Regions from separate parts of the Homo sapiens genome. Here all the other regions are linked to region 1. The links come from fine-mapping of genetic effects on gene expression. A gene starts in region 1. Each other region holds a variant in brackets. All regions are shown on one strand. Distances are between the middles of the regions. Region 1 holds the start of MRPL27 (mitochondrial ribosomal protein L27). Region 2 overlaps XYLT2 (xylosyltransferase 2). Region 3 has its middle 6.3 kb from the start of XYLT2.

Region 1 (2,850 bases):
TGTATTTTTAGTAGAGATGCGTTTTCATCATGTTCGCCAGGCTAGTCTTGAACTCCTGACCTCAAGTGATCCGCCCGCCTTGGCCTCCCAAAGTGCTGAGATTACAGGTGTGAACCACTGCACCTGGCCAAAAACTGTTCTTTTTAAAAATTGAGATATAGGCTGGGCATGGTAGCTCATGCGTATAATCCCAGCACTTTGGGAGGCCAAAGCAGAAGGATCACTTGAGCCCAGGAGTTCGAGAACAGCCTGGGCAACATAGTGAGAACTCGTCTCTACAAAAAAATACAAAAATTAGCTGGGTATGGTGGCTCACACCTGTAGTCCCAGATACTCAGGAGGCTGAGGTGGGAGGATTGCTTGAGCCTGGGAGGTCAAGGCTGCAGTGAGCTGTGATTGTACGACTGCACTCCAGCCCGGGTGACAGAGTGAGACCCTGCTTCAAAAGAAAAATAAAATAAAAATAAAAATAGAGATATAATTTGCACAGCATAATATCCTTTTAAAAGTGTACATTCAGTAGATTTTAGTATATTCACAATGTTGTGCAACCATCATCACTATTTTATCACCTCAAAAAGAATTCCTGCAGCCATTAAGCCGTCACTGTCCTTTCCCTCCCTCCCCAGCTCCTGGCAACCATAAATCTGTCTCTATGCATTTGCCTATTCTGGATATTTCATATAAATAGAATCATACACTATGTGGCCTTTTGTGATTGACTTTTTTCACTCAGCTTGTTTTCAAGGTTTATCTATGATGTAGCCTGTATCAGTAGTTAATTGCTTTTCATGACTGAATAATATTCCACTGTATGGATATGCTACATTTTGTTTATCCATTCATCACTTGGACATTTAATTTGTTTCCTTTTTTTGCCTGTTATGAATAATGCTGCTATGAACACTGACATACAAGTTTTTGTGGGGGTATGTTTTCAAATCCCTTTCGTGTATATACCTAGGAGTAGAATTGCTGGGTCATATGCAAAGCTAATCATTTCTTGAACATTTACTAACACTGTAGGTATGACCCAGAAGGAGACATGTAACCTGCCTAGGCCTCAGTTTCTTCCTTAGTAAAACAGGGATGGTAACAGCACCCATTTTATAAGGTAGTGAGAATTAAATAAAATAATGCATCCACCGCGCTTAGTACAGCATCTGGCACACAGCTGGCTAAGTAGAGTAAGTTGAATGACTAGGGAGGGGGCCTCATCTCTGACCCTTCGCTGGGCCTCCGTTGACATCTGCAAATCAGGGGAGTGGGACAAGCGGGCCCCTGCCCGACAAGCTCTGCGCCTCTCAGGCTGGCGGTCCGCTGCAGAGGCTCCTGGACACCTTAGCCACCAAGATTCTGCAGAGCGGTGTTCAGGAGGGAAGCCCTGCCCAATCCGCAGGCCTGCGACCGGGGACGCTCACCTGCAACTTCTCCCGCCACTCTTTCAACTGCCACGCAGGGCCCGGAAGTAGATCTCCTGATAGCGGAAGTAGAAACTTTTCGAGACCGGAAGTGAGTGATCGAAAGCATGGCGTCGGTGGTGTTGGCGCTGAGGACCCGGACAGCCGGTAATGGGACGCAGTAGTCAGAGCGGGGTGAGGCGGGGAGGCAGAGTGGAGCTCCAGCAGGGAGGGAAGGAGGTGACACTGATCCCCGCGGAGGACCTTGGATGCGAGGGGAAGTGTGTGGGGTACTCCAGGTTTGAGGGACGGTGTCGCTGGTCACGTGACACATCCTGGGTGGAGCCGTGAGTGAGGGCGTTTGAAGAGCACTTGTCTTTCTCCTGCCTCAGCAGCACGGACGGGTTCCTTGGCGGTTGGGGATTTGGGTGGGTCCTTTCTCTGTAGAAGTATTAGTAACATTGGCATATTGGGGTTGAAAAAATTAATCTATTGATTCAGCAGATTGAGGTCTTACTTTGTGCTAGACACGGCGGTAGGTGTTCGGAAAATCAGCAGAAAACGTGAAGACTTGGCTTCTAGCCCCCGAACGGTTCTCTCTGGTGCATAAGGCAATAAATGAACATATAAAGTAGATGTAGACTGGCAAGTGCTGTGAAGAAGGATAATGTGTGTCTGTGTGTGTGTCTTTTTTTAGATTGGACGGTGAAGGAAGGCTTCTGAGGAGATAACATTTAAAACCTAAAGAATGACAGGCGGGGCGTGATGGCTCACGCCTGTAGTCCCAACACTTTGGGAGGCCTAGGTGGGCGGATCGCTTGAGCCCAGGAGTTCAAGACCGACTGGGCAACATGGCAAAACCCCATCTCTACAAAAAATACAAAAATTAGCTGGGTGTAGTGGCGCTTGCCTGTGGTCTCAGATACTCAGGAGGCTGAGGTGGGAGGATCACCTGAGCTCGGGAGGTCGAGGTTGCAGTGAGCTATGTTCATACCACTGCACTCCAGCCTGGGTGACAGAATGGGGCCCTATCCCCCCCCCCCAAAAAAAAAAGAATGACAGGAGACCTAGACCTGTGTAGAGTGAGGGACAGGAGAGTGACTTGAGCCAGTTTTACATTTTGAGAAGCAAACTATTGCTCTTATGTAAATTTAAAGGGGATAGGAGTGGAAATGAGGAAATCAAATGGAAAGTCGTAATAGCCCTGAGGAGAGATGATTTAGCCAAGATGTTTGTGGTGGCAGTGAACTTGGAGGAAAACGGATGAATTTGAGATCTGTTTTGGAGTTAGCATCCACAGAGCTTGCTGGTGAACAATATGTGAGGACAGCAAAGAGAAGGAATCTGCAATGACTCTGGTTTCTGCCTAAGCAACTGGATGAATGGTGGTACCATTTACTTTGAGGAGGAGGATGGGGAGTAGGGTGAAGAGCAAAGATTTGTGAGTGAG
Region 2 (2,500 bases), 24 kb after region 1:
ATTTTTTGAATGAATGAATGAATGAATGCAAAGCTTTTGGCATAGGCACAGCATTCAGTAAGTACTGGTACTTTTTTTTTTTTTTTTTTTTTTTTTGAGACGCAGTCTCACTCTGTCGCCCAGGCTGGAGTGCAGTAGCGTGATCTCAGCTCACTGCAACCTTTGCCTCCCAGGTTCAAGCGATTCTCGTGCCTCAGCCTCCCAAGTAGCTGGGATTACAGGTATGTGCCACCATGCCTGGCAACTTTTTGTATTTTTAGTAAAGACTGGGCTTTACCATATTGGCCAGGCTGGTCTCAAATTCCTGACCTCAAGTGATCTGCCCGCCTCAGCCTCCCAAAGTGCTGGGATTACAGGCGTGAGCCACCATACCTGGCCCAATGCTGCTATCTTTATCATTATGATTACTCAGATGGGAGGAGGAAATTAGTCAAACGTGAAGTCAAGAGAGACCCAAGATCCTGGACATCTTGGACTCGGCTGGGTTGGGTTCTCTGTGCTCCTCACCTCCCCAGGACTTCCCCCAACCTACCCACTACCCTACCCACACCCTACCCACTACCAGTATGGGCACATCAGGAACCTCATGCTGTCAGGCTGACAGCTACCTTCAGGCCAGAGCCCCATGCCTACATCCATGCCCTCTGTGCCTAGCACCCAGCCAGCCTTCTGATCTTTTTATTTTATTTATTTTAATAGAGATAGTCTTGCTATGTTATCCAAGCTGGTCTCGAACTCCTGGACTCAAGCGCTTCTCCCACCTTGGCCTCCCAAAGTGCTGAGATTACAGGCATGAGCCACAGTGCCCGGTTGCCCTCTGATCTCTTAAAGGTGGCCAGTGGGAGCTGGGGGCGCCCATTCCCATCCGAGAAGAGATACCTGCAAGAGGAGGCAGCAGACCCTATTCTCTACCCACACTGGGGAGGGCACCACAGGCTGGGGAATCCCTAGGAAAGGTAAATGCAGCCCCACTGAGCTGAGTGTGCATCAGCCTGGTGACATGTGAGCTGGCTACAGAGCACAAGCAGAGAAAGACATTCCCAAGCTTAGGTGGGTAGATGGCAGAGAGCTGTAGGCTCTCCGAGTGGAAGCCAGTATCAGTGAGTTAGGAAGCTGGTCAGGAGGGCAGGGCATGAGGCACGGGGCCAGGTTGGCTGTGGTGGGGGCCAG[G/A]ATGTGGGAGGAGATGGGCATGTTGGTCCCTGCACTGCAGTGGGAGCTGGCTGACCCTGAGAAGGACAATCCCAGAGGAGGCTGGGGGATGAGGAGGCAGCAGTGAGGGAGCAGAGGCCCTGGTGGGCAGTCAGCCCCCACCTCCATCCCTTCCAGGCATGTCCAAGGAGCATCGTCATCACAGCCCCAGCCTTGTGCCCCTCACAGGCTGCCCCCAGCAGCCCCTGAGGTCAGGAGCCCTTCTGATGACTGAGGGTAGGGAATGGTCCTCTGACTTCTGGCTGGGATACATTCTGGCCTCAGAGGCTCCTTCCTCTCCTCCAAGGAGGCGATTAAAATCCTCTGCCACTTCCTGGCTCTGTAGCTCCACCTTAGAATCCTTCTCTGAGTCACAGAAAGGGTGAACACAGAAATGCTCCCCCCATACCCCACCTCCTTTGACTTCTCGGGCTGCATTTAAAACAAGTGGTGAGATGGTGTTTGTGGAAGCTTTGGAAACTATAAAGTGGCTCTCTGGAGGTTCGTGACCATCCCTGGGATCCACTCTCAGCCTCTCCATAGATGGGCAGAGTGCACGTCTTAAATGCACACTGAATCCTGTGCTGCTTAAACCCCTTCAGTGCTCTCCCACTGCACTTAGAATAAAACCCTTGCCCCTTGCTCTGGTCCTTTCAGCCGCACAGAATGGAACCTTCTTTCAGGGAAAGCACCACACCCTCCTGTCCATTCCTCAAGGGTGCCCAGCTAAGCCCATTCTCCTCAGGCCTTCTGCCTGAACTCTCCTGCCCACCTCTTCCTGTGAGAAGCCTTTCCTGACCCCCTGATCTAAGCCAACCCCTTTGTAATTCTATTAAATTCCTTTTCGCTGTCTGTTTCTCTCTGTAGATTACCTGTCCATGAGGGCAGAGACCTCATCTATTTTATTTTTGTATCCCCAGTATTAGCACAGTGTCTAGTACAAAGTAGGACTTCACACCTATTTGTGGAATGAATGAATGAATGAATGAATCGTATTCCCAATGCACAGTGCTGGGATAATAAGAGTTATTTATTTACTGACAGCTGAGCATGTGCCAGGAACTCCTGCAAGTGCTTCACAGGCATCATTTTCACTTAATCTTTATAATCACCTAACACGGGAGGTGCCATTATTATCCCCATCTTGAGGAGGGATACTGATAAGGATAAGGGAGGAGGCAAAGTGATTTGCTGGTGGTCTTCTCAGGGTCAGAGCTGGAAGAGAGTGGTGAAGTGGGTGGTCCAGCTTCAGCACTCACCTTCCCATGCACCCCGTTATGCTGCCTGGCAACCCCAGAGTCAGGTGAGGGAG
Region 3 (2,850 bases), 33 kb after region 1:
TTAAAATTTTAATTGGCATAAGTTCCCTCTGCTTTAATCCTTACATTACAAAGTTAGCCTGAAGTAACCTGATGTTCACTCATCAGTTATTTTCTATTGTTCTGTCTCTATATTCCTGCCTTACCACAAAAAAGTAACTTTGAAAATTAATGAAGATGCTCTTTGCTCATTGCATCTGCTGTTTTCAGCCCTTCTCTGTCTGTAAGCCCAACCTCCTCTGCTGGGCTCCCTGGAATACTTTTCTATTTTATGGGTGAAGTGTTGCCTGATTCTAGAATCACAAATAAAGCCAATTAAGATCTTTAAACTATTTTTGTTGTAATTTTGACTTTTGACCATCCTCCCATCTCCTGCCAAAAAATAGCACAAAATTCTGATAGCACAAAATAACCAATAGGGGGAAAATAGAGGTATTAAAGGACAAAATATCAATTTTGAAACCCCAGCATGAGTGAATCCATTTTGATTTTTAGTCTGGTCTGTTGGAGCCTAGTGCAGGAGCTCAGTACAAAACAATGGCCTCCTATAATTCTTACTTAACAGAATCAACATCGTCATTATGAATGTTATTCTAGAGAAAAATGTAAACACTCCACTGCATCTCTCTTATTTTTCTTTTGCAGTTATTTTATTTATATTGTATGTCAACAGTATGAAGTGTTCCAAAAATGAAAGGTCCACATATCTTTCATTTTTCTATTTAGCCAGCCGAGAGCCCATATGCAATATTCGCTTCCTCTTTGGTCCTCTAGTTGTCTAAAAAGCCTGTGGGGTGGGCACGTGTAATTCACCCGGGGATATGAACTGGGCTTCCACACCCAAGCTGAAGAGCACTGGTGATGGAATATTCTGCTCCTGCAAATCATCTTACTTCTACATGGGGTTGCTATAGGAAGCTGGTCCATAATTAGAAGTTGCCCATACGGGCTTTCACTGCTCCTCTGATCCACTTCCTTGACCTGCTTACTAAGCCTAGACAAAGTGCCCATTACTTGGACTCCCAGGGTTGCAGTCTCAGTGCTCAGCTCTTTCACCCCCAGATTCTATTGGCTAGTATATTTCCACTGTGAGAAGTAGAAACTCTGTCTCCACTCCATTCCAAGTGACTGAAACATTAATGAGGCCAGGTGTGGTGGCTCACACCTGTAATCCCAGCACTTGGGAGGCCAAGTGGGGGTGGATCATTTGAGGTCAGGAATTTGAGACCAGCCTGGCCAACATGGTGAAACCCTGTCTCTACTAAAAATTCAAAAATTAGCTGGGCATGGTGGCACGTGCCTGTAATCCCAGCTACTCAGGAGGCTGAGGTAGAAGAATTGAACCCGGGCGGTGGAGGTTGCAGTGAGCCAAGATCAGGCCGCTGCACTCCAGCCTGGGTGACAGAGCTAGGTTCGGTCTCAAAAAAGAAATAAATTAATAAATAAAATAATGAGGGGAAGGTTGGAAAGTTCATACTTTGACCCACTCTCTATTCTCCA[A/G]ATACTTAACAATGAGAGATAAAGTTTTTAAAGGCATTGATAAGATATATACAAGCTTAAAAACAGGATAAACATTTAGGTGGATAAGAAAGAGAACAAACTGGAAAGCAAAGTGGTGAGTAGGACCAAAGCCAAGGGCCTATGGGGTAATGGGAACTAAAATGTTGCACAGGGAATGGGGGATGGAACCAGACTCTGGCAGCAGCCACAGACTAGAGTGAGGCTACCCTGCTTGTGAAAGGAGACTGAAAACAAAAAGTGCAGCTGACCAGATCTCAGGAGCTATGGCCCAAATGGTGGACCTAGGAAGGCTGCAGAACAAAAACAGCCTCACAACCCAGACTTAGGTCAAGCCATCCTCTAACTCTGGGTCTGCACATCTCCCAATATCAGTGAAGAGCATGAGTTCCCAACCACTATCACAAAACTATTTCTGGACTAGGGCACAGTGAATGCCATGACGAAACTAAACCCACCAGACAAAAAAGGAGAGAGTAAAAAGCACAATGCAAAAACAAAAATTCTCAGCTACAATGAGCCTGTAAACCCAAATTCCAAAGGACATGAAGAAATGGAATGATAAAAAAGATAGCCAAGCAATTCAACAACTGGAATATGAACTTTCTCCACATGAAATTCATCTCTTGGACTCATATGACAAAGACTTGAAAATAAGGATGGCTCAAAGAAGTAAATGAAGAAATCATCTGACAAACAAGAAATTATGAAACAAATGTAGATGAAAATGAAATGAAGATATACATATGAAATATAAATAATTATACATCTCAGAAATAAAAATGTAGAAAAGCAATAAAAATATCTCAAAAGATAGGGTGAACTTTAGACTGGATATAGTTGAAGATAAAATTAGTGAATTGGAAGATAGCTCTAAAGAATTGACAGTGAATGCAGCAAAAAGAGGTACTTTGATTAAAAATAAGAACAGTTTGAAGAGTAGGAGAATAGATTGAGAGACTCAAACTATGTATAACAGGATTTCCAGAGTAAGAAAATAAGGAAAATGGCAAGGAAATAATATTGAAGCTATGATAGCTGAGATTATTTCAGAATTCAAGGAAAATATTAGTAACATACAAGAGGATTTTGATTTTTAAAACTCAATCTGATACTCTAAGTTTTACTGTTTCTTTAATCAGTTTACATTTAGTGCCATTAATGGATTATTTGGATTTTCTTTGATTATGATTATTCCACATTTTCTGCTCACTGCCTTCTTTCTCCACTTTTTTTCCCTTTACTATATTCTGTTGGATTGGTAAAATCTTCTATTCTCCTTTTTCTCTTCCAGCAGTACCAGGGTTGGTACAGCTTTTATCAACTTACTTAATGGCTTTCCTTAATATTTTCT

What was found. PIP is the estimated chance that this variant, and not a neighbour inherited with it, causes the effect.
Region 2: its variant is fine-mapped to the expression of MRPL27 in whole blood (TOPMed, PIP above 0.99). The same link has a PIP of 0.9 or more in nasal epithelium.
Region 3: its variant is fine-mapped to the expression of MRPL27 in whole blood (TOPMed, PIP above 0.99).

Annotation. Positions count from the first base shown.
Region 1 is chr17:50,371,849-50,374,698 of GRCh38, reverse strand. It overlaps MRPL27 (mitochondrial ribosomal protein L27), which reads left to right and starts at 1,515. Exons shown (of 4, transcript NM_016504.3): 1 at 1,515-1,568. The coding sequence starts at 1,529. EME1 (essential meiotic structure-specific endonuclease 1) reads right to left here and starts at 1,470. Exons shown (of 9, transcript NM_152463.4): 1 at 1,422-1,470. RefSeq lists enhancers at 1,152-1,371, 1,512-1,981.
Region 2 is chr17:50,347,779-50,350,278 of GRCh38, reverse strand. The region is part of intron 1 of XYLT2 (xylosyltransferase 2); the gene reads right to left. Among named protein-coding and RNA genes, the nearest start is that of XYLT2, 2.9 kb to the right of the region's middle. The variant G/A (reference allele first, on the strand shown) is at 1,171.
Region 3 is chr17:50,338,370-50,341,219 of GRCh38, reverse strand. No RefSeq gene overlaps it. Among named protein-coding and RNA genes, the nearest start is that of XYLT2, 6.3 kb to the left of the region's middle. The variant A/G (reference allele first, on the strand shown) is at 1,479.